4 linked regions of the Homo sapiens genome follow. The protein of the gene in region 1 interacts with the protein of each later gene in a biochemical or structural test. Each region holds a gene or a part of one and is shown in the gene's direction. Other genes may lie near its edges. The genes, in order: KDM3A, MRTFB, RPS6KA5 and MYOCD.

Region 1 (8,035 bases):
CTGGAATATATACCCTGAAGCTTGGATAATTTTTACTAACCAGTGGAAGTTATTTCTGGCAATACCCAGTGGCTAAAATATATTTGTTGGCAGTTTCAATATCCTGCTGCTCAGTCCTCCATCTGTCTTCACCTCAGTGTATCCTTTGACCTTACTGCATGGTCTTCCAAGTTGAAACTCTTTTTGGCTTGCTTCCAGAATGTACCTCTCACCTGGTTCTCCTGCTGCTTCTAAGAGATCTCTTGGTCTTTTCAGTGCCCACTGCTGGTCCCTACATGAATGCCCTCCTCACCCTCCTTGGGGTCTGACATCCATGTCAAATCACTCTCCTACACACTCTCCTCCCCCTCCTCAGGCTCTGTTACTCATGCCAGGCTTTCTTCTCATGTAAACAGTCTCTTCACTCTGTTTGGGCTCCAACATACCACACTAGGCTGCCCCCATTCATGGATGCCCTCCTCACCTCACTTGGACTCTAGATAACCCAGGCTAGGTTAACCTTTTGTGTGTCTACCCTTCTCACCCCACTTGGGCTCTGACTGTCTATGCCCGGCTATTACTCCTTACTCTTTAGAGCTCTAACATCCCATGGCTGACAGCCTCTCCTTATTAACACCTATCTTGCTCTGCCCCTCCTAATGGCCTCAAGACTGAAATGTTTAGAAAGAGGAAAGGAAAGAGAAAAAAGTAGAAGAGAGGAGGGAATTTTAAAATATTTTATTGGATTTTAAAATATGTAGCATTTTGATCTACCTGGAACTTATTTTCGTGAATGTTGGTGTAGGAATCTTGGTTATATATACATTATATACTTTTTTTTTTTGAGACAGAGTCTTGCTTCGTCATCCAGGCTGGAGTGCAGTGGCGTGATCTCAGCTCACTGCAACCTCTGCTTCCTGGGTTTAAGGTTCAAGTGATTCTTCTGTCTCAGCCTCCCGAGTAGCTGGGATTGTGGATGTGCACCACAACAGCCAGCTAATTTTTACAGTAGCGATGAGGTCTCACCATGTTGGCCAGGCTGGTCTCAAACTCCTGACCTGAAGTGATCTGCCACCTCAGCTTCCCAAAATGCTGGGATTACAGGCATAAGTCACTGCGCCCGGCTTATATATACATTTTTAATGGATAATCAATAGACCTCAAAGCATGTATTGCATAGTTTATTCTTTACACCCACTAGAAATATGTCGATCACAAACTAATTTTTAATATACACTGGGTCTGTTTCTTTGTTCTCTTCATTACTTATATATTTATGTCTTGATGTTTTTATTTGTTGTTTTGTTAGAGGAGAAATGACATATTTATCAGATCATATCAAGAGACAGAATTTTTCATCTTCTTTATACATGTCAGCAAAGTCTAATTTTCTTCATATAGGTTGTGTTCATTTCATGTATTAATTTTTAGGGATTACATGTTTTATTATCATTAATGGTTTTTATTTTTCTACTGTATGTTCTAATTGATGCTTGCTAAGGAATAGGAATTCTTTTGATTTTCGTTTGTTGATCTTTTATTGCATTATCTTTTTGATTCTTGTTTTAATTCTAATAATTTGTCACTGATGCTTTTGATTTATCTACAAATGTTTTGGGCTTTTTCTTCCATTCCAATGTTTACATTGTATTATTTTTCTTGTCTTATTACATTAGCAATTAACCTCTATTGTAACTTGAATAGTAATGACAGCATTGGGCATCCTTATCTTGCTCCTGACTTTATTGGGAATTTTTCTAAAATTTCACAATTAAGTACAATGTTTAAGTATATTTCTGGTAGATATCCTTTATAGAGTTATAAAATTTTCTTTTCTTGATAGTTTGCTAAGAGTTTTTATAATGAATGAAAATGAAGTATATAAAATTTTTGGTGTATCTATTGAGATAATCATATGTATTTTCTCCTTTAATTTGTTAATGTAGCAGATTCCATTAATGAGAGTTAAAAATTAAATTTTAAAAGTAACATGTGAGTACATTTACCTTATAAAATGAGAGAATTACAGGGAGTGGGGAGATTGGGTAGATGTTGGTCAAAGGACACAAAATTTCAGTTAGACAGGAGGAATAAGTTCAAATGATCTAATGTACATCATGGTGACTACAGTTAATGACAATATATTGTATATTTGAAAATTGCTAAGAGTGGATTTTAAGTGTTCTCACCACACAAAAAAAGATGAGTATGTGAGGGAATGCATATGTAAAATAATTTGATATAGCCATTCCACAATGTATATCTATACCAAAACATCATATTGTACACCATATAGTTTTACCTGTCAATTAAAAATAAGGTGATAAAAATGTAAATACAAAAAAAGTGTATTTATAAAAAATTAGAATTACAAATAATATGTGTTGTCTTTGACTAATACCCCTAATTCTAGTGTGCACCCCCTAATACCAGTAACCATTACTGTAAGTTTTAATAACCATATTTAACAGAACATATATACTGTTGTTTTTGTATGTGTATTTTGAAATAGTACCAAATGCAAATTTCTTTTTCATTCATAATGTATTTTGGTAACTATTTTTATTGGAACATCTAGCTGCTTTGACTCCTTTACAAATCCTCTACAACTTTCCAATATATGCATTACATTCCATTTATTGTTAATAATTTTATTTATTCCTTCTCCAACTGGAGTACACTTAGGTTATTTGCAGATGTTTTTTCGTTCATATGTGTGTGGGTGTTTTTCTGTGGTACGTAACTTATATTCCTAGGTTTTTAGAAAGTTTAAAAACATTTTTTAAAAATTATGGGTGGTATTGAATATAAGTGTACACTTATAATCTTCTTAGTTTTCTATGTAATTTAAAAATACTCTTAAGATCACAAGTGTTCAATGTGACTGCATGCTCTATTTAGCCCTAAGGTGAATATACGATTTTTCTTTTTTAACCTGTCATGGTGAATTTTAGTAATTTTCTAATCTTGAAGTATCTTTGCATTCATATAACACTAATTAATCATATCAATTACCTAAAAAAAATGCTGCTGGATTTAATTTGCTGGTATTTTATAAAAGAATTTCCCATCTATGTTCCTAAGTATAATTGAACCATAGTTTTTCTTTCTTATACTCGCCCAGTTCAGAATTTGTGAAACGGTTTTATAACTTTTATAAAATGCATTGGATATCTTTCCATCTTTTCTAAGCTCTGAAATAATGAATTCAACATAGAAAGTATATGTTCCTTCAGGTTCAATAGAATTTTTCCCTTGAGTTGTTTTTCAAATTAATATTTAATTACATAATCTAAGTTCTCCATATCTTCCCTTATATTTTACATTTGAGTTGCATATTTCTGAGATATTTATGTCTTCTACTCTGAAAACAAATTGTCAAATTTGTAAAATTTCTCATCGTTCATAGCGTCACCTTAGGATAGGCCATGTTTTTAGATTCATAACAGTTCAGGAGACCATACTGTCTTCATGGACTTTATCTTTAATATAAAATCCTTTCTCTTTTGATACTTTTAATTGTATTAATATTGCTATACTGCTTTCATTTGGCTACCATTTGATTAAATATTTTAGCCCAGTATTTTCAAGCTTCCTGTTTTGTAAGCATTTGCTTATGGTCAATTTATAGCTGGATTGTCCTTTTATTCCCAACTGTCTTTTAAAACTTGTGAGTGAAATTAACCCATTTACATTTATTGTAAATACTGATGTTTGGACTTTTCACATGAAAAACATTTTTACCATATGTTCTGGTTTCTTTTGCTTATCTCGTTCCCATTTCTGCCTTCTTTCAGCTGGATAGGTTTTTTCTTCTCATTTAGCAGCCCCCTTCCTTTAAATGGTCTACAGATTATAAATCCAATTTAATTCTTGTTACTAACTTTAAAAACTTAAAATCACATTCAGAATATGTATATTGAAAATCAACATCCAGAGTTGATTTGCATCTATAATCCCTTATATGTTTCCAAACATTCTCTGATTATACGTTTCCACGCTTGTAAAATGGGAGGCATGAGTTCTTCTTAAGGATTAAATGTGATGTAATGTCAAACACTAGCCTTTATGAACATATCTTCAATTTCTTCATTCCATTTCTTTTTCATTCAATCAAAATACTTCAGGTCCAGAGCACACAATCACCTCTAAACTCCTTTGTCCTTCAAAGTCACCTTCTCTTTCATCTCTTCCATCATTCATTATGGCCTTCAACTACTTTAAATTTCTTTGTAAGTATCTGAATACCTTCTCAATCCCACTTTGGAGAAAAAAAAATCTCATTATACATTGTATTTAAAGGTCTCTTTTGCTCTAAATTTAATGAACGTCATTATCCAGTAACTCCACGCCTTTCTTCATTTATCCTTCAAAATGGCGGACTTTAGACGTTCCACGATCAGTACCACGTGCGCCTGCGCCTCCCGCAGCCATTTCGCCCAGCAGCCTAAGCTCGGCGAGGCGCCTGCGCACGAGCCTCCAGAGCACTATCGCTCCTCCCTCTAGCTGAGTACGCCTGAAACCGCACGTTCTCTTCCCTGCCCTCCCCCGCTAACCCTGCACCGCCCTCACCCTTTCCTGTGAGATTCTTCCGCCAAGTGGAAGGCTCATCTTCGGTCGACAGCCTACGCGGTTGAAGAACAATCCAGTAGGCACTTATAGCTCAGGGTCTCGCCATTCAGTCTTATCTATGCGCCACAGCAATTTTCCTCCGGGCCCCAAAGTTGATAACCGATTTCGCGGGACTTTTTTTTTGCATACTGTGAGGCAACAAATGGAAAGAATAGGCCTATGGCGGAGGGATCACTCGCTTATTCTCTGTGTACTTTAACCTAATGGGGGTCGCCCGGGAGTCGGAAGGGGGAGGGGAAAGGGAGGAGGCAGCCAAGGAATTGTTTTTTTCTCTGGCCCCGCCCTCGCCCGGGGGGCCAATGGTGATGATCTGTTTCCCCCGGAGCCTCGCCCAGCTCCTGTGTTTCAGCCAATGAGCGGCGGAAGCGGCTCCGAGGGGGGCGGGTCCGGGAGGCTGTGCGTGTCTTGTGAGAGCTCTTGAACCAAGTCAGCGCTGGAGTCGGCTAGGCGGCTGGAAACGGCGGCTGCCGCCGGTGACTCAGGGAGGCGGGAGGCGGGGTAAGAGCGCCGCGGCCTCGGCTGCGGGGAGAGGGGAGAGAAAGGTGAAAGCGCCGAGCGCGCGGCCCCGTCGCCCGTTGGCAGCGGCGCAGGCCCGGGAGACGGGCGCCCGGGGTTCGGGGCCGGGGAGCTGGGCGCCGGGGCGGGGCGGCGGGGCAAGTGCGGAATCGCGGGCTCGCCCACCCTCCCCCGTGGGGCCGCCCGGGGCGGGGACCCAGCCGCCCGGGACCGGCTCTCTGCACCAGGGGCCTTTTCTTTTCGGGGCTGGGGGCTGAGCACTTTCAAATCCACTCGAGCCGCAGATAATTTTTCCCTCACTCCCTCTGCGGTTGCGTTTGAGCTGTTAGAAAAGCCAAACTTGGGAGAGCGAGGGTCACGCGGCGCTGGGGCCCGGGTGTGTGGCGGGGGAGGGCGGCGGGGGGCGGGAGGGCGCAGGAGGGGGGCTCGGTGCGGGTCCGCCCGGGGCCGCGTCCTCGCGCGGGTTCGGCGCCCTCCGCCCGCCCTCCCTGCTGTCTCCGCCCGGCCCCCTCCCACCGGCCGCCCCCGTCGCATTTTGTTTTTGTGTTTTTGCAGGGAGGAGCTCTTCCTGCAGGCGTGGAAACCATGGTGCTCACGCTCGGAGAAAGTTGGCCGGTATTGGTGGGGAGGAGGTTTCTCAGTCTGTCCGCAGCCGACGGCAGCGATGGCAGCCACGACAGCTGGGACGTGGAGCGCGTCGCCGAGTGGCCCTGGCTCTCCGGGACCATTCGAGCTGTTTCCCACACCGACGTTACCAAGAAGGATCTGAAGGTACAGGCGGCTCCGGGCCTCTGCCACCGGACGTTTCGCAGTTACCGTGGTAACGCGACCATCGGTTCCCTCCTTCCGTTTTCTGAAAACGGAGACCAGAAAGTTGGCATATGATCTGAAGGTGCAGGAAGCTAGATCTTGAAAGTCTTTGGAATGGTTGTATAGAGCCGAGTTGTGTTTGGCCCACAGCTCCTGGCTGCCTGGCTTTAATAATGGGCTTAGGGTTGTTCAGACACGCTTCATTAATGCCGGTGCTGTGTCCCACCAGGACTGTCTCATCTTTACTGCAGAGGAGGAGGAGTATTTTTGTTAGCGTTAGGTAGGGCCTGTAAGTGACGTTTGGAGTCATTAAGAATTGAAGGTTAGTGCTTGGAAGTACTTTCAGCTGGTTTTGTTTGTTTGTTCCTGTTAATTTATTCACTCAACTTTTAAAAAAACTTTCAGACTTGTTAAAAATGAAGTGAGTGTAGAGGGAGGAGCTTAAGTTCTGTTTGGCGTATTAGGATGGGTGTTTGTCCGTATATGGTGGGTCAGGGCAGGAGTGGGTTCCTGGTTGTCTGTGATGAGCCGGTGGGTGGGTGTGGGATATGACCATATATGGAGGGATGGGGTGGAGCTGTCCCATATATGGCATATTGGAGGACTGGCTTAGAAATACTGCACTTGGACGCATGAGGGGAGGGAGAGAATTGGGAACAAGTGCGGCCAGTGATTTTTTTTTAAATCATTATGACACTCAGAACCTTTTTCTGTTAGATCTTTTCAAAGACAGATGAATTCTGATTGTGCTCCCTAATAGAAGTATTGATGTGAAAGGATTGTCTGGGAACAAGCAGTGAGGAAGCCATTGTACCAACAAAGACTCCTTTGTGCGAAAATAACTGAAAAAAGGTTCCTAACAAAGACTCCAAAGTGGTGATAACTTGAAGGAAGCTTGTCAGAACAGAAGATATTTCCACCCTGCCTAGTAGATGTGTTTCAGAATCTTCACTTGGCCATCATCTTTGCTTTTTCTTAAACTATGTTCAAATAAAGGCAGCAAGTTTTAGCATTGGCAGTTGATTATATGTTGATTTCTGAAACACTGTTCATTTGAACACTTTCAGGGTGACAGTGTATGCCCAAACTGGTATTTATCTGCAAAGAGTTGTAGGAAAGGGGTATGCTGTTAGGCATGTTTTAAAGCTTCAGTGTTGTGCCTTGTCTCTTGTTGAAAAGGAGGAGTGACCGAAGAGCATTTAACCATGTGGCAAGCACTTCACAACTATGATCTCGTTTAATCCTTACAGCAGTTCTTGGGGGTAGGTACTAATATTGCCCCCATTTTATGGATGAAACTACTGTGCCTGAGGGACGTTAAGCATCTTGCCAAGGACACATACGTAGGAATTGACATAGCCTGTATTCTGTCAAACCCAGGAAGTTTTACTCCAGAAGCTGCCCTCTTAACCATCAGGCCAGTGATCAAGAGCTATGCCACAGCAGAGCTCCTGTCATAGGCTGTGAGGTTTGGTTTTTTCCTGCATTCGGCTCATTCTCCTGCCAAATCAGGTTTTGATGTTTATAGAGATAATATATTGTGGTGCAAGAATGGCCAACCTTTTTGCTTTGGGCTTATAACCTTTCTGTAAGCTGGGCTTTGTGTACTAGATTTCAGTCGTGCTTGTTGTGGTTTATTTCGCCTGCCAAATAAAATTTTCTCTAGTGCATTTGTTTTTATGTGATTTGAATGGAAACAAGATTTTATTTAAACTTTCCAGTCTTTAGTTCTTTGGCAGATGTTGAGAGACTAGGCGTTCCCTTCCCTTCTGTAGCAGCAATTGAGGACCTGTTGGGTTAGGCAGGCAATCTAGGAGGAACTTCACATGTATATATTTTTTAAATCTCCTCCCTCCGCCCCCATCCTTTGAGGAGGTGGTGATATCTTCATTTTCAGAATGAGGAAATAGATTTAGGAAAAGGAATCTTGTCCAGATTTGCATAATTAGCTGCGGAGGGAGGCTGCGAATCCAGATTGGGCCCAGTGTCTTCTCCACTGCACTTTGGTGCCTAACCTGAAGACAACTGGGAATTCATGTCAAAAACAATTTTGGCTAGGTTGGATTTTTGCCTTACTTGTACACATCACAACTCAACC
Region 2 (7,483 bases), on another chromosome or scaffold:
CAGGGTATCATTATGTTGCCCAGGCTGGTCTCAAACTCCTGGCCTCATTCAATCCTCTCTCCTTAGTCTCCCAAAGTGCTGGGATTACAGGAGTGGGCCACCATGCCTGGCCAGAATTACCCATTTTGTTTGTTTGTTGTTTTCAAAGAATAACGCCCCGTGGTCTTGTTATGCCCACCCCTTCCCCATGAGGATCACTTCCACAGGTCCACAGGGAGCCGCTCACATTGATGGGAAAGTATGGCACATCTTGTGTCAGGATGGAAACCTAAATTTGGCACAGCAAGGCCTGAGGTTAGTGGCAACTTCAGTTCCTATAAAACGTTCCCTCAAATCATGATGTCACTTTGGTGTTAACCCTCTTTTTTTTTTTTTTTTTTTGAGACAGGGTCTCCCTCTGTTGCCCAGGCTGGAGTGCAGTGGTGTGATCTCTGCTCACTGCCAGCCTCTGCCTCCTGGGTTCAAGTGATTCTTATGCCTCAACCTCCAGAGAAGCTGGGATTATAGGCATGCGCCACCACACCTGACTAATTTTTGTAATTTTAGTAGAGACAGGGTTTCACCATGTTGGCCAGGCTGGTCTTGAACTCCTGACCTCAAGTGATCTGCACGCCTTGGCCTCCCAAAGTGCTGGGATTATAGGTGTGAGCCATGGTGCCCAGCCTGGTGTTAACCCTTAACCACATCAAAATTCTCTTAAGTTTCAGCTCAATTTTTTCTTCGCTTTTATTTTTGCCTATGAAGTGACTTCCAAGTCATATCTTTAAAAATATTTGGGTGGCTTTTCCTATAAAAGCAGAGTCCTTTATAAAGCAGACTGCCCCTCCCTCAGGAAACTGGGAAGAGATTGCTTCAGGAGAGCTGGTATCCTTTCATGACTAGGGGGAAGTACTGGAGTAATTCTGCCCATTTTGAAAATATTTATTGTTCTCAGAATTATTTATTTCATTCAGAAATATAATTAAAAACTAATTTTATTTTTATTATTTTTGAGACAGAGTCTTGCTCTGTCACCCAGGCTGGAGTGCAGTGGTGTAATCTCAGCTCACTGCAACCTCCACCTCCTGGGTTCAAGAGATTCTTGTGCCTCAGCATCCCAAGTAGCTGAGACTACAGCCGCCCGCCACCATGCCTGGGTAATTTTTGTATTTTTAGTAGAGATGGGGATTCAACATGTTGGCCAGGCTGGTGTCGAACTTCTGTCCCCAGGTGATCCTCTCACCTCGGCCTCCCAAACTGCTGGGATTACAGGCATGAGCCACCACAGCTGGCCTAAAAACTAATTTTATTTCTGTATATGAGCCCATCCTCCTACTTGAATTGCTATTTCTACTGGGCAATGAGGAAAGGATAAAATATCACAAAGAATCCACCCATGGTAATAACAGCTTTGATTTACTGAGTGCTTAATCTTGTAAGGCACTTTTCCGTATGCTTCACATATATTAAGTTGGTTAATTTTCCCTACTCATGTTCTTATGTTAGATGAGAACACTGAGGCACTGGCCACCCGGAGGAGAACATAACAGCATCTTACACTGGAGTCCTGACCTCAGGGGATTTGGGGATTTTCTGTTTCATAAAGATAAAGGCTTTTGAGGTAGGGAATAGCCTTGTTGGTCACGAAAGGCAAAGTTTGTGCATTTGGAAACAGGCTGATCTGGGGTGGAACCAACCACTTGCCAACTGTGTGTTGTTGCGTGTTGTTGTGTGTCGTTGCGTGTTGTGTGTGTCGTTGCGTGTTGCTGTGTGTGTTGTTGGGCATGTCCTCTCACCTCTTATGTTCCTGGTTTTCTCATCTGTAAAATGGGGACAACCATAACTTCCACAGGGGATTTGTGACGGTTGATTTTAGGCATCCGTTTGGCTGGATTAAAGGATACCCAGATGGCTGGTAGAGCATTACTTCTGGGTGTGTCTGTGTGGGTGTTGCCAGAAGAGATTGGTGTTTGAATCAGTGACTGAGTAAGGAAGATCTGCCTTCATCGCCATCAGTTGAGGGCCTGGATAGAACAGTAGAAGAAAGACAAATTCTCTCTTTCTCTTCCGGAGCCAGGACACTATCTTCTCCTGTCCCTCGACACCAGAACTCCAGATTCTCCAGCTTTTTTTTTTTTTTTTTTTTTTTTTTTGAGACAGTCTCACTTGATGCCCAGGCTGGAGTTCAATAATGCAATCTCAGCTCAGTGCAACCTCCTCTTCCCAGGTTCAAGCGATTCTCCTGCCTCAGCCTCCCCAGTAGCTGGGATTACAGGCACCCATCACCACACCTGGCTAATTTTTGTATTTGTAGTAGAGAACGGGGTTTCACCATGTTGGCCAGGCTGGTCTTGAACTCCTGACCTCAGGTGATCCACCTGCGTCAGCCTCCCAAAGTGCTGGGATTACAGGCATGAGCCACTGCGCCCAGCCCAGGTTCTCCAGCTTTGGACTCTAGGACTCGCTCCAGTGGCTCCCAAGTTCTCAGGCCTGTAGCCTCGAACTGAGAGTTACACCATCAGATTCCCTGGTTCTCGGGCCACAACTGCGACTGAGCTATGTCACCAGTTTCCCTGGCTTTCCAGTTTGGAGATGGCACATCGTAGGACTTCTCAGCTGCCATCATACATCCCCTCTTATGAATCTATATAGTTTTTTCTTTTTTAGAGACAGGGTCTCACTCTGTTGTCCAGACTGGAGGGCAGTGGCACAGTCAGAGCTCACTGCAGCCTCGACTCCTGGGCTCAAGAGATCCTCTCACATCAGCCTCCAGAGTAACTGGAACTCCAGGCATGTGCCACCATGCCCAATTCTTTTTATTTTTTGTAGAGACGGGGTCTCACTGTGTTACCCAGGCTGGTCTAAAACTCCTAGGCTCAAGTGATCCTCCTGACTGGACCTCCTAAGGTGCTGGGATTACAGGAATGAGCAACCTTGCCCAGCCTACATCTATCTAGAACCTAGTAGCTGTGTTTCTCTGGAGAACCCTAATACAGGGTTGTTGGGAGGGCTAAATAAATTAATAAATAGACAGCACCTGGAGCAGGGCTCAGCACTTTGTAGCTGCCCAGCAGGTGTGATTTTCCTTCTTCACCCACTTCCTCCATCTGGTGAGTTGAGTGAGGTTGAAACATGCAAGGGCACCCACATGCTCTGGCCTGTACACAGCAATTGGTTCCGGGGAGAGTGGACAGGTTTGGAGCATGGGCAGGCCAGCACTTGCTGACATTGATGTGATTATCAGGTGGGCTGGGTAAGCCCATGCAGACGCTGTTGCAGGTGGAAGGCTACCTAGAACCTCCAGGGCTCCTGATCTTACAGCAGCCGGCCCAGATGAGCTAGCTCATGCTCGCTTGCTTGCAGAACAGGACCTACCTACAAGGTAGTGCTGGGCTCCGGACTCAGACCCAGGTTCAAATCCTATTTCACAATGGAAACAGGCTACTTTCTCCACCTCCAGGATTGCAAGAAGATTGGTATGACCTTGATATGCCCGCAATAAATGTTAGCCCTTCCTCTTTACAAACAATTATTATTTCATTAAGACTTACTCCTGGGAAGAAGTCACACTTTTCTGTGTGCTAACATCATGTACATTCTGATTCTCTGTCCTGTGTGCCATTCCATCATGCTCTCTACCAGCAAAACGCCACCAGTCTAAGGAGGAGACAGAACCGCATAAAAATAGTCACACAGTCTTCAGAGCTGCACAGGGAGTGGCACAGGGGCTTCACAGGCCTTGGGAAGTTTGTAAAGTGAGGGAGAAGCACTTTACTGTCGCCAGCTCCATTGAAAACAGATTGTAGCAAATGACTTCCCAGGAGCTCCTCCTCTCACCTTGGTGAATGTTGGGAGAGAATGAAGACTGCGGCTGAGAGGCAGCGCCTTGAGCCTTGAACGGAAAGAGGGACAGGGCCTGGGGGCTGTCACTGAGGTGCAGAAATGGGTTTTGGGCTGGGCATCAGACAACCCCAGATCCCAACACTGGCTCAGCCAATTCCTGGCTGTGTGACATGGAGCCATTACTGTACTTTCCTTGCCAGGCCTCCATTTTTCCTCTCTCTAGAATGGGGAGGCTGGTAATACCCACTTTGGAGGGCAGTGTGAGGACCGAAGGGGGCTGTTAAGTGCTCGGCGCGCAGCGAGCACTCAGGACGGGTGGCAGCGGTCACCTTTGTCGCCACCGTCCAAGCCTTTGCAGAGGCTCAGGGCCGAGCCCCGGACATGCGCATGCGCACGCGCACCCGGCCGGCCAGGTGAGAAGGAGGCGGCCGCCTCGCACCTGGGCTTTAACCCTTCCCAGTCACGGGAGTGGGCGGAGTGCACGCAGGGACGGAGTCGGGGGCGAGCAGCGAGAGAGGCCGGGCTTGACCCTTGAGGCGGGGTGGGCAGCGTCCGGGGAGCGCGCCGAGCCGCTTCTAGCCTGGGGTCCGCGCGCGCCGCGGGGAGGAGGGGGAGTGCCGAGGGGAGCGAAGTCTCGCGAGATCGCGCGGCGGCGGCGGGAGCGGCGGCGGCGGCGGCCGGGGAGGTGAGCGGCGGGCGGTGGCGGCCGTTGGGGGCTGAGGCCGGGTGAGAGCGGCCGAGACCGAGGGCTGGGTGGGGGAGCGGGCCTGGTGAACATCCCGCGTCCCAGGCAGCCATCCCTGTTCGTCCCCGCAGCAGCTGCGGCGCCGTTTGGTCCGCACCGTCCCCGGGACTCGCGCGGGGCGGGGCGGCCGGGGCCGCGGGCCGGTGCCTCCTTCAACCGGTCCTCGCGCCCGGGCGCGACCCCGGGGCCGCCTCAGTGTCCATCTCGACTGCAGAGTTGGCCCTGCTGACAGTGGCAGCGGCGTTTATGGAGCCTCTGCTGTGTGCCGGGCACTTAAGTTGCGCGCTTGCACGCCGGGGCTGCACAGAGAGGTGGAGCGCCCGGGCCAGAGCCACACTGCGAGGAGGCGGTGGGAGGGGACCGGGACCCCTGCGCCCCCTTCCTCTTCCCACCTCCCACTCCCCTCAGCCCTTTTCTCCTGGGGTCCCGACCAGGCTTCAGAGGGGGTGTCTGGGAGCGCCCTGAAGTTGGATGCAGCTTGGTATATGGGTTTCTTGGGAGAGAGTTTTTCCAGGGCTTTTGTCTCGTTCCTAAAAGGGTCCCCGATCCCCAAGTGGTCAAGAACCATTGTTTGGCCCTGCTTGGAAGCAGAGGTGGGCTGAGAGCAGCGGGCGTGTGCTGGTAGTGGGGTGTCAGGCCCAATGAAGTGGAATATTGGAGCCCAGGGCTTGCCTTAGGCAAAGGAAACTCTTCTCTAAAAGTTCGATTTTTGTTTCAGCACGCGATTCCACTCTTGGGAACAGTGGTTCTCAACCTCGTCAGAATCAAGGTCCCTTCTTCCCCTTTGCAGCAAACATGTATAAAGCCCTCTTTACTACCCTGAAATGAAATTCATAAACAATGTGACCTCCCTACACACATCCTTGAAAAGCAGTATGATGGTTTGATTGAAGCGTAAGGGCGAAATAGAGAACAGTATATGACAGATGTTGCTGTACCATTCACATCTAGGACATACTCTTGTGCTGGAAGACAGTATATACTGGGGTGCTTGTGCCAGCTTCTAATGAGTACATTTGTATTGGTTAAAAAAAATTAGGAGGAGCTATTTCAAACAAGAGCAAGCCTGGGCAATATAGCGAGATCCCACCTGTACAAAAAAAGAAAAAATTAGCGTGGTGTGGTGGCGCACACCTGTAGTCTCAGCTGCTTGGGAGGCTGAGGTGAGGGGATCTCTTGAGCCCAGGAGTTAAAGGCTGCAGTGAGCTGTGATTGCACCACTGCCCTCCAGCCTGGGCTACAGAGTGAGGCCGCTACTTCAGGGAAAGAGCAGAGATACAGACGGAGGTTGGGAAAAACACCTAGGTTGGCATAACCTGTTTCTTGCGAATTAAAGAGAGAAACAACCTAGATTGAACTAGGGATAACATGGCAAGACAAATAACAGACTGTCTCAATAAATACGTAAATATTAGCACAAGCCCTCCATGGATCCATATTTTTAAACTATATTGTAGAATTTTTTGTGTCACACACTCGAAGGGACAATACTGGCTTCCTAACAATTACCATTGGTAATAATTAATAAAATATTAACAAGGTTGAAAATTTTTGGTTCAATATCAGTATCTCACTTGTTTGTATATGCTCAGTATTCTGATACTACAATTGTATGTTAACGGTGTGTGGTGTGAGGAAACGATCGCTAATGTTTAGACAGTTTTCCCTTACTCTATTTAAGCTTCCCTTGCTACTTTCTCCTACATTACTGGAGTTTCCCTGCAATTTCTTATAAAAACTTTTAAATATTGTAAAGTAATGCCAGTTTATAGTGGGCTTAATCTGCCCGTTCATTTGAAAGACTCTCGTACCAGGCGAATCTTCATTATACAGATCTGTCCCACCTATGTGTTGTGTGAAGTCTTTTAGATCCAGGCCCCCCAAACCCTAAATGCCAGCGGTGTCCCCCAGTCTCTTTGATAACTAAAAATGTTCCTTGGGGGCAGTTCCAGCTCCTTGGAGAACCACTCCAAACATCAGTGTTATCTAGTCAATTATAATAGGAATTATAAAAGGAAATTTAACAGACAGTTTTTGCTGAGAGTTTTGTCCTGTTTTGTTTTTTCTTTCTTTCAGAAGTGTCTGACGTACAAAAAGCATGCTTTTGGTTAGTGGCGCTTTCATTGATTATTCTAGAATCTCAGATGGGAGGTCAGGTTAGTACCTGTGTCCCTCTGTCTGAAAGATTGGCTGTGTTTAATGGAAATGTTGACAACTAAACACTTGAATCAAGTAGCAGATTGAGGTTAGAATGGAGTTGGGAAGCAACAACAATAATGTGTAGAAATAAGTCTTAGTTAAGTATAATCTAAACTAGTGTAATCACCCTTTAAATAGCTTCTTCTGCTTACTAATATCTATATTAGAGAATTTGGAAAATGCAGATGTATTCAAAGGTAAAACTTAAAATTACCTGTAATCACATATGCCAGTAGTCCTCATGGTGTGATTTGTTAGCAGTTGTCTTTTCATTTCAAACTTTGCTAGTCTTGCTGCATAGGGGAAAATGCAAATCGAGTTAAGAAAGTTCAGCTCAGACCATTTATATGTTACCTACGTATAACATTTATATATGTTACAATGTTACCTACATTGTAACATTATACATTTAACTCTTCTTTTAATAATAGTTTATTTGGCTTTTTTTTGTTGAATAGACGAGTTGCTTCTTGATGTAAGGTGTTTATTATTAGTTGCGTGTTACGTTTGAAAGGTGCTATGGAAACAGACATGTAGGTAATGACTGCTGTCAAAACAGAAGGCTATACTTTAAATTATCTAGAGTTAGAGACATTGAACACTTTGGAGATGGAAATTTATCCAAATTGAGAGTAATGAATTTATATTAATTTGAGCAAGCAGTATCTTGTTCCAGGGTAAAAGAGGTCATTACTGGTTTTTAAAATCAGAACTTTA
Region 3 (7,036 bases), on another chromosome or scaffold:
TTGAGTAAAGTCTACTGTTAAAGTATTCCAGATTTTTAAATTCCAGTGTCCTTGCTGTGGAATCTAGTGTTGGCTTTCTGATGTCAGAATAATCAAACCCTGCTCATATACACATCCAGAAAACTTTTTCTAATGATGATACATTTAGCAAAATCGCAAGTCTTTAAAAATTCTAGTTAAATAGACTTACTTGAGACAAGTGTACATTGTGAAATCTAAAATAAAAATTTGTGACTATATAATACATAATCTTCATTATGTAGGCTATTTCTAAAAACTTAGTTTCTGTGCTGATTTCATGTTAAGTTTTTCAAACGTTAGCAGATTATAATGGCTACAGTAAGTTTTGTTCTAAATCTGGTAGCCATTTATTATTAAATGATTAATGATTAAACATTAATCATTTAATAATTACTTAGGAATTATAAATTACAATGTCAAATCTTCATACATCAGGCTCCTTGCACTATAATTACTTAAAATTAGTTTGCATCAATAGTCTATATAAACAGATATCTTAGTTTAGAGGAAAAAATATTCTATTTTCTAGGTACTTTAATAGTTTGGTCTTGTGAAAATTACATAGGTGTGTGTTTATGTATGTGTATACACACATGTATTGGGGGCTTACAATACCAAATTAATAAGACTGCCCCTCACTCCTTAAATCGACTATCTGCCCTGCCAGTAATCCCCCACCTGTACTGGTATATACAGAGTTTTCTCTGGTACAAATGATTAATCAAGAAAAAGGGTGTGAAATATTTGTGTTCGTTTCTTTTTAAATGAATAATGGGATACACATAAACTAGTAACACCACATTGATTTCCTAAAGACCTAATACAGCTTTAAGAGGGAATAACATTCCAGAGCTCCAGGATTATTTTAATTTAGCTTTCAAGATGGTTACGATTTTGATTTAATATAGAGACTTCATAGTGTTAAATTTTAGGGTTTTTTTTTTTTTTTTTGTATTTTTAGTAGAGATGGGGTTTCACCATGTTGGTCAGGCTGGTCTCGAACTCCTGCCCTGATGATCTGCCTGCCTCGGCCTCCCAAAGTGCTGGGATTACAGGCGTGAGCCACTGTGCCCAACCTAAATTTTAGGTATTTAAAACATCCATTGATGCTTTGTTTTGTTTTTGGGTTTTTTTTTTATTGTTGTTACTTAAGGGATGCATCTTATTTATTTGGTTGACTTTTATCTAGACATCATAAATGTGATGCTTACTTTTTTATTAGCCACTTCATTGTTGATGTCTTAATGGGAGATCTTAGTTTGATGAATCTACTCTTTGAAATTTTAGTTTGATTAGTCATTTGTTTCTGCTAGGTTTTGGCTTTTGTTTTGTTTTTTGAGTGATAACCTAAGAAGTTTCTACAGTGGAAAATATCATTATGACATCTTCATCCCTTATAAAGTTGTTTCATTTAGAGGAATTTTTCAAAGCCTATGTTGAGAAATGGGCAAATTAAGTAAAGCATCATAACAATTTTTTTTATAGTGAACTCATTTTATTTATAGAACGGCAAACACATTCACTCTTTTTGCTAACATCCGGGGCTTTTTTCATTGTGACTGCTTTGCACACTTAAAAATGTTTCTCCCAGGCCGGGCACGGTGGTTCATGCCTGTAATCCCAGCACTTTGGGAGGCCGAGGCGGGCGGATCACAAGGTCAGGAGATTGAGACCATCCTGGCTAACATGGTGAAACCCTGTCTCTACTAAAAATACAACAAAAATTAGCCGGGCGTGGTGGCAGGCGCCTGTAGTCCCAGCTACTGGGGAGGCTGAGACAGGAGAATGGCATGAACCCGGGAGGCGGAGCTTGTAGTGAGCCGAGATCGCGCCACTGCACTCCAGCCTGGGCGACAGAGCAAGACTCTGTCTCAAAAAAAAAAAAAAAAAAAAAGTTTCTCCCAGCAAAGGCTAACTGGAATTTATTTTTGTTTAAAGACAAATACTTTTAATGTGGATAAAATAAAAGTTGGAAGTATGCCTTTCATGTGGCAAACTGGAAATTAGTGGTTAGTACTCCATTGCAGCATTAAATACCAATTCTTTACAATAGGGTGCACATATCAGATGCTGTTTTTCCCTTAACCTTTGCACTTTTCATTGAAAATGTTTTCAAATCAAATCTTGTTTTATTGGGTTTCACATGATTGGACTAATACTTACATATATGCTTCTTTTTAAGGTATTTAGACATTGACAATTAGTTATTTCCTTATGAGCCATAGCTTTGAAAAACCATTTTAGAAGAAATTTCCATTTTTTAAACAAAAGTGTTGGGAGGCCGAGGCGGGCAGATCACGAGGTCGAGACCATCCTGGCTAACATGGTGAAACCCCGTCTCTAATAAAAATACAAAAAATTAGCCAGGCATGGTGGTGGGCACCTGTAGTCCCAGGTACTTGGGAGGCTGAGGCAGGAGAATGGCGTGAACCCGGGAAGCAGAACTTGCAGTGAGCCAAGATCGCACCACACCACTGCACTCCAGCCTGGGCGACAGAGCGAGACTCCGTCTTAAAAAAAAAAAAAAAAAAAAAAAAGTGATTTTTTAAAGAAAAGATACCGATAATTTGTCTTTGCTGTAGATGAATGCCACGTTTTTATATACTAGGACTATTACTGAATAATACTGTTTATTTCTTTAGATCAACGAATATATTAAATTCTGTCTTTTTTGTTCAAATAAACGCTGTGAGATGATTGGGAAGGCTGTGTGTTGAAGTTAGATGCAAAGTTGGACCTTGTACAGTGAGCCTCTTGTGAGAACTGAGCCATGAAAGATAAAGCCTGTCATTCATGTCTGCCTTGGCCTGTGCCCAGCTTTATTAGTAAAAACCATTCAGTTTTTACTAATGATATCTACCAGTATCTAAAGAGAAATACCTTCATCCTCTAGAAGAAAACAAGGTTACCCAAAGAGCTCACTTAATTCCTTCCTTTTTCCCTGAACCCTTGGTTTTAAGTGAAGAGTAAAATGTACTAGATATGACACTCTCTCTGAGTATTACTGAGGATTTTGTGGAAAAGGCAGTTTGGTACTTTATTTCCAGCTTAGCTGCAGACTTGGTGACCCTGAGCAAATCACTCAGCCTCCCTTTGCCTCCATTTCTTCATCTGTAAAATGGGGTTAACCTGTGCCTCCCTGTCTCACCAGCATACTGAGGGATCGATTAAAGAGGATTAAAAAAATCCATAAGGTACACTGATTCCAAAGATGGGTAGAATGATATTTAATAATGAAGACTTTCTGTTATATAGCAATTTAATTTTAAAAGTATCTTTACCAGGCCAGGTGCGGTGGCTCACTCCTGTAATCCCAGCACTTTGGGAGGCTGAGGAGGGTGGATCACGAGGTCAGGAGATCAAGACCATCCTGGCTAACACGGTGAAACCCCGTCTCTACTAAAAGTACAAAAAAATTAGCCAGGCATGGTGATGAGCGCCTGTAGTCCCAGCTACTCACGAGGCTGAGGCAGGAGAATGGCATGAACCCGGGAGGCGGAGCTTGCAGTGAGCCGAGATCACGCCACTGCACTCCAGCCTGGGGGGCAGAGTGAGACTCTGTCTCAAAAAAAAAATAAAATAAAAGTATCTTTACCCACTTCTCTGTAGTGAATATTGACTAGCATTTTGAAGTAGGAACTAACAAAGTATAAAATTAAGTAGATTTTTTATATTTATGGGTATTGTTCTAGTACAAATTTATGGTGTACACTGTCGGTCTGAGTGTGGGTTTAAAATATATCATTGTGCTTGGCTAATTTGTAGAATGTCTTATTTGAATTGACTTCATTTATTTCAGAGGAATGCATAGATGATCAGATCAAACTGTCGTCATAGCAGTGTTTTCAGCACATACGAGAATCTTAGAGTTTAGGAGCCTTAGAGCTCACCCAGTGCAATTTCCTGCCGGAAGCAGATTCCTTCCTGGTGACCTCACCAACAGGTGCTTGTGCAGCCTTTTCCTGAAAACTTTTTGGGAAAGTGGGGGCTGCTACCTCACTACTTTGATGTGTACCTTTTGTTCAAGAACTTTCTAAAACTTGGAGCTAATCATGGGTTATTTCAGAAGATGTAAGCATTTTAAGTTTTTTATTGAATTCCATCCTTATTTAAAAGGCCTGGTTATGTAATATTTTCTGTTTTTTTTTTTTTTTTTTGTATGGTTTCCCACATTGATTAGGTTGTTTTCTTCATTTTCTTAATAGATTAAAAATACTTTCTTCTCTTTCTATTTGTGTCTTCTTCCATTTAGTATTTATGGGAGGGAGCAAGAAGGGAAAGGATGTCTATTTTTAAAATTGACTACAATCATGACTGTTCTTCTTGTCATTCTGTAGCAGCTGGATTTATTACCATCTCTTATTTAAAGGTCCTTCAGAACACGTTGAAGCAGTTCATTTCAGGTCAATGGCTGGTAAGCAATGTCAGGACCTCTGGGGAAGGAGAAGCTGACGGGATCCCAGAGGAAAGAATTGAGGTTGTTTGCTCCCTTGTAGAAAGCCCACAGATCCCTTCCCAGACTAGAAAAAAAGTGCCAGAGTGTCCTGAAACTTTCCTTCTAAGGCACATACTTCAAAGAGACTGGGGATTCCTTTGTTTTAAATATAGGTGGGGTCTCACAGTGTTGCCCAGGCTGGGCTCAAGCGATCCTGCCACCTGGGCCTCCCAAAGTGATGGGATTACAGGCATGAGCCACCATGCACGGCCATGGAGATTCTAATGTGGTGCCAGCTGCCAGGTAAGAAAGCTGTGAGACAATGTGTTGATTTTCCTTTACTACGTCAGGTTTGAGGACATCATCTAGCATCAACGGGTAACGTCACCCTTTGTTCCATCTTTGGGAAATAATAGTAGTAGCTTGTTACTGTTAGCTGACCCCTACATTAGCATCAATAAAGTAAATCCCTTTAACTTTCCTTTTGGCCTTTCCTTTCTCTCTCTCTGCCTCCCCACCAGCCCCGACTCTCTCCTGTGTGCGTACACATCCACACACACCTCCATGGTATTCCTTCTTTCTCCCACCTAAGGGAAGCTGTGCCCGATCTTGCTGCAGTCCAGGTCACCGTACTGAGATGAGTCAGCCACAGACTCTAAACACTAGCAGCGATTAGCCGTATGTAGCCACCAAGTGCACTGTTTTAGACAGGTTTACACAGCTCTTTGCTGTCCACTCATATCAGCTGTGTAGTAGCCCAAGGCAGCCTGTCAGGCAGAAGAATTACCAACCAAAGTGGATCTATTCATAAGATAAAAGATCCGGAGTCCGTGCCCTCTTAAAAAACTTTTGTCTTCAGACATATGGGTGCGTGTTCATCTCTGGCCAAAACTTTGTTTCCAGTTTCAAAGGGCTGGTTGCGAAGGTGGCCTTGTAACCTTTCTGTTGCCGGCTCTGTTAGTTGCCTGATAAGCAGTAGCTAATTCATCCTCCTCAGAATTTGAGAGTGGCATCTATTAGATTCAGACCACCAAGGTGCCTGCGCGGGCTCTCCTGGTTACGACTGAGTCCCCTTTTCTCATCTGTGGGGTGAACGCTTCTATTTGCAGAAATTTGCTTGCATCTTTTTCCTTTTATTTATTATTACTTTTTAGAGATGCGGCCTTGCTCTGTTGCCCAGGCTGGAGTGCGGTGGACTCTTTTCTTTTGTTGATCTTTGCCATCCTCTGCCTGGCTTAATGAGGTTCTTTCCCTGCGTATTTATGTCCCAGGAGCTCACCTTCCCCCTAGGTTTTTAAGAAGGAAGCAGAAAATGTTACAAAGTATAAGGGATTCTATGAAGTCCATAGATAGGATTTGCTTTGGGAGTAGATGATTTCTTCTTATTTTGGTGTAAACATCAATTTGGATGGCAATTAGAATGTCTTTAGCCTCTTTAAAAAGCCCTTCTGGGGCAAACCTTTGCAAGTCACTCAGCTGGCATGTAATGAGATTTTTATTTGCATGGCTTTTTTTTTCTAAGTCTCTCTAGAAGAACATAAGGACATTCTGAACATGCAAGGAATACAGTTATTCTCACATCAAGGATCAATTTTATTTTGTATCTTCATTTTATGTCATTTTCCTTTATTTTATTCACATTAATCTAGCATTAATTCCCCCCAGAGGGAATGATATTTTTGGTTGCTGCCACCTGTGTTATTAAGTGACAGCTTTTCTTTATCTGCTTTTCTGAATTTCATATTTATATACTTTATTGTAGTTTTTTAAAATCTATTCTAGCTGGGCTAGAATCTTCCAAGTATTAATTCATAATGAACTTCCCTCTTCTGGAATTGTTTAGGAGGGCTAATGTTCCATGTTCCCTTCGTTGCTATAGATATGAAGTTATTTCGATGTTCTTTGAGTGCTTTATTATAGCGATAACTGGTACTGCCTTTGATTAAAGGTGAGCTATATGGAGTTAAGCATTTTTATACTAGTAACTATTTATTGAGAATTTTCAGAATTCTATAGCTACTTGTCTTTAACAGTTATAAGAGGCATGTATTTTTTTTTCCTTCATGGTCTGGAAGTTAGTTTTCTCTTTGTTTGGGTAGATCGGAATGAGTTGTTGAGCTGTGTTGAAAACACACATGAATCAAAAAAGCAGATGTATTGTAGAAATGTGATGTTTTCATGTTTCGGGAATTTGACCGGAAAGCTTTATGTATGGGTTTTATTTTTAACAAAGCAGTAAGGGCTTACTTTTTACCAACTTGTGTGTGTGTAAAGATGTATTTGTTCAAGCTTTAAGAATAAACCTGTCAATGTACAAATGCCTGATATCTGACTTGGACTTGTGGTTTGTTTGTTTGTTTGTTTGTTTGCTTTTCGGGGCGTGGGGGTAGGTATGTTGGATCTTGGAAATAAGTGAGAGTGTTAAAGAAGCACAACAATCTGTATCAGTGAATTTACATCTTAGAAGACTCACATTAACTTATGCTTGAATGAAAACCGTGTGTGGATAACTGAATGCAGCGTTTTCTGAACTGCCCTGAAGGACGGCTTAAAAGGAGAAGGAAGCCACTCGCCCATTTA
Region 4 (2,596 bases), on another chromosome or scaffold:
AGGAAGCCAGTGCTTATTAGTAGTGACCCTGCTTCTATCAACGTTATTGAGACAACACATATTCTATTCTAAGGGAGAAAGAGGGAGGAAGAGAGGGAGGGAGGGAGGAAGAAGAGGGAGGGAGCGAGGAAGGAAGATAGGAGATGGGTAGGGGGGTAAAGAGAAAAGGAGGGAGAAGGGAAGGAAGGAAAGAAGAGAGGAAAGAAAGGAGGGAAGGAAAAAAGGGCCAAACTTTCTGATCTATGAACTTCTCAGTTCAGCTGTCACATTATGAGAAGTAAATCAGAATTTTTTTAAGGAGAAGTCATTCTTAGCACTACAATAATTGTACCAGTAATTGAGGAAACCAAGACAATCTTCACCTGAATAATAGAGGGTCTGAGAACTGTCAGCCTTTTGCCATTCAAAAACATTTATGTCCAACCTGAAAAAAAAGCATCAATAAAACCTATCCCAAGCATTCAAAATAGTCCTTTCCAAATGTTATTTATTTTAAAGTCAATCAGCTCTTTTAGAAACAGATTCTGGTCTGGCTGAAAACTCCCACAACAAATTTACTCATCCAGTGGCTAATATTTAATGCCCACCATGGGCAGAGCACACAAATCTTCAGATAAACAATACTGAATTGATTCAGCACAGATTGTTCAGATTTGAATGACCAGGGAGTTGTATTTGCACATGCAAGAACACTAAGAATCTCCCAGTCCTCAAACTAGAAACCTTTCAGCTACGATGAAAAAAAAAAAGGGGTCTTCATTTTTCCAAGAGGGGGTGGAGGTGGGGATCACTTTTTAGCTAAAAGCTATCTCTCACTTCAAAATTCTTGTCTTTTTCTTTGTGGACAAACACCAGTAGTCTATCACTTGGAGATCTTTTAATATCTCCCATCATTTAAAACATCCACGAGAGTTTGAAGATTTGTGTTGATTGCCAGATACAGAAGCCCCTTGAAAATAAGGAAAGGGTGGAGGAAGCATTTTTGTGTCCTATCCCTACTTATCGTAGCAGCTCTATAGACAAAAGGGACACTTACTGGTGAGCCTCTGGCCCTTAAAAGAAAATCATCTAAGAATATGAAGGCAATTTGATTTCCCCCCACAGCCCTCAGCTGCCTTCCTCACAGAAGGAAGTTCCCAAAATTGCTGGTACACAGTTTGCAATCAAATATCAGATATGAGAAAACCTGTAGTGAAGAGTCTGGGTTCTTGGTTTTCTCATAAATCCAATATAAATTTGTAGGTTGGTTCAGGGTCAAAATTGCCAGTGCTTTATTAGACAGATGATACTGATAGACACACAGAGCCCAGGTCCTGGAACAAGACAATCCTGTAGTGCCAAGATCTGGTCAGTTGCGTTAAGGAGCTGGGTTTGATTCTAGAGTCCAGGTTTATAGAGAAACCCTGGCTAGATTGAGCCTACCCATGGGGAGACGATTTCAAGACAGGATGAGATCTGGGAAGAATTTTGTTGTCATCTGCCAGGGAAATTATCACAGGACTCATTGAATGCAATAACATGTGAGTAAGTTCCCTTTTGATTCTGGGAATCAGCGATTTTCCCTGTGGATTAAGACAAACCAACGCCAGAAGGTCTCCTGTGCTTATTTTAACCATCTGCTCCCATCGTGAACCCTGGAGCATGCATTTCCTAGAAGTGGTTTCATAGCTCCTGTGTGTTCATGGAAAAGGGGAGTATAATGATGGGGATGCTGGAAGCTTTTTTAATGTTTTCCAAAGGAAAGGAACCCACACTGCTCCCCAGAGTTCCTTTCCAATGGCCCTGCAGTAAGAACGGAGGACAATGTATTGCTGGGTGCTTAAAATCCTCCCTCAGTGAAGCACAAAGAGACACTTTGTAAAGAAAAAAAGAGCAAGCATAGGTTCTCTGTGGGACCTTGTGGAGTGGTGTTTTCACGTTGGTCTCTTTGGCTCAATTGAGCATAATCAGAAAGAAATGTGGGTTATTGGGAAGAGACAAAAAGCAGTGGCTAAAATACCAAAGTTGGCATGTGTTCTTTTTTAAAAAAAAAAAAAAATGCATATATTTTTAAATAAAATGTTTATTTTAAAAAGAAATGTAAAACTTTTTTTTTTTCGTGGCTGTGTGATGTACCCAGGCCTTATGCTATGTACTATTTATATGTGTTATTTCCTTTTATTCCCACAATGGGCCCATGAAGTAGTACCATTATTATCCTCATTTTTGCAAATAAAGAAACCAGGCTTAGAGGATACGTAAATTGCCTAAAGTTACACAACTGAGAAATGGCAGAGCCAAGAGTCAGACTGTGATTTGCCTGCCTCCAAAGCCCGGATCTTAAGCACTGCACAAACTGTCTGAACTGATACTTACTATGGATCATACTAATACAATCAGAACTTTCGCAAAACAGATTCTCAAGCTATGTATATGCCCATTAAGATACATACATACATATACAACTTAGCGAATTCAATGTTTTCATCAGTTTAGTAACTGAGCAAGTTGAATAATAATGTAGGATAAACTGGGTATCAAGAGGCCTATATGTATAGACTTCCTGAATAAGACCTAGTTTTTAATCTACTTTTTCCTCTTAAATTTATTCCTGCCT

Evidence for each region.
Region 2: the proteins of KDM3A (region 1) and MRTFB form a complex in vitro, tested with the Homo sapiens proteins (one study listed by BioGRID).
Region 3: of the proteins of KDM3A (region 1) and RPS6KA5, one has a biochemical effect on the other in vitro, tested with the Homo sapiens proteins (one study listed by IntAct).
Region 4: the proteins of KDM3A (region 1) and MYOCD form a complex in vitro, tested with the Homo sapiens proteins (one study listed by BioGRID).

Annotation. Positions count from the first base shown.
Region 1 is NC_000002.12:86,436,336-86,444,370, forward strand, and holds the start of KDM3A (lysine-specific demethylase 3A), read left to right. Parts: upstream 1-5,035; 5' UTR 5,036-5,109; intron 5,110-5,125; exon of another isoform or gene 5,126-5,223; intron 5,224-5,334; exon of another isoform or gene 5,335-5,503; intron 5,504-5,682; 5' UTR 5,683-5,712; coding exon 5,713-5,898; intron 5,899-8,035. UniProt on the Homo sapiens protein: Histone demethylase that specifically demethylates 'Lys-9' of histone H3, thereby playing a central role in histone code.
Region 2 is NC_000016.10:14,066,859-14,074,341, forward strand, and holds the start of MRTFB (myocardin-related transcription factor B), read left to right. Parts: upstream 1-4,460; 5' UTR 4,461-4,507; exon of another isoform or gene 4,508-4,548; intron 4,549-6,648; exon of another isoform or gene 6,649-6,723; intron 6,724-7,483. UniProt on the Homo sapiens protein: Acts as a transcriptional coactivator of serum response factor (SRF). Required for skeletal myogenic differentiation.
Region 3 is NC_000014.9:90,847,606-90,854,641, reverse strand, and holds the end of RPS6KA5 (ribosomal protein S6 kinase alpha-5), read left to right. Parts: 3' UTR 1-6,781; downstream 6,782-7,036. UniProt on the Homo sapiens protein: Serine/threonine-protein kinase that is required for the mitogen or stress-induced phosphorylation of the transcription factors CREB1 and ATF1 and for the regulation of the transcription factors RELA, STAT3 and ETV1/ER81, and that contributes to gene activation by histone phosphorylation and functions in the regulation of inflammatory genes.
Region 4 is NC_000017.11:12,766,872-12,769,467, forward strand, and holds the end of MYOCD (myocardin), read left to right. Parts: 3' UTR 1-2,078; downstream 2,079-2,596. UniProt on the Homo sapiens protein: Smooth muscle cells (SM) and cardiac muscle cells-specific transcriptional factor which uses the canonical single or multiple CArG boxes DNA sequence. Acts as a cofactor of serum response factor (SRF) with the potential to modulate SRF-target genes.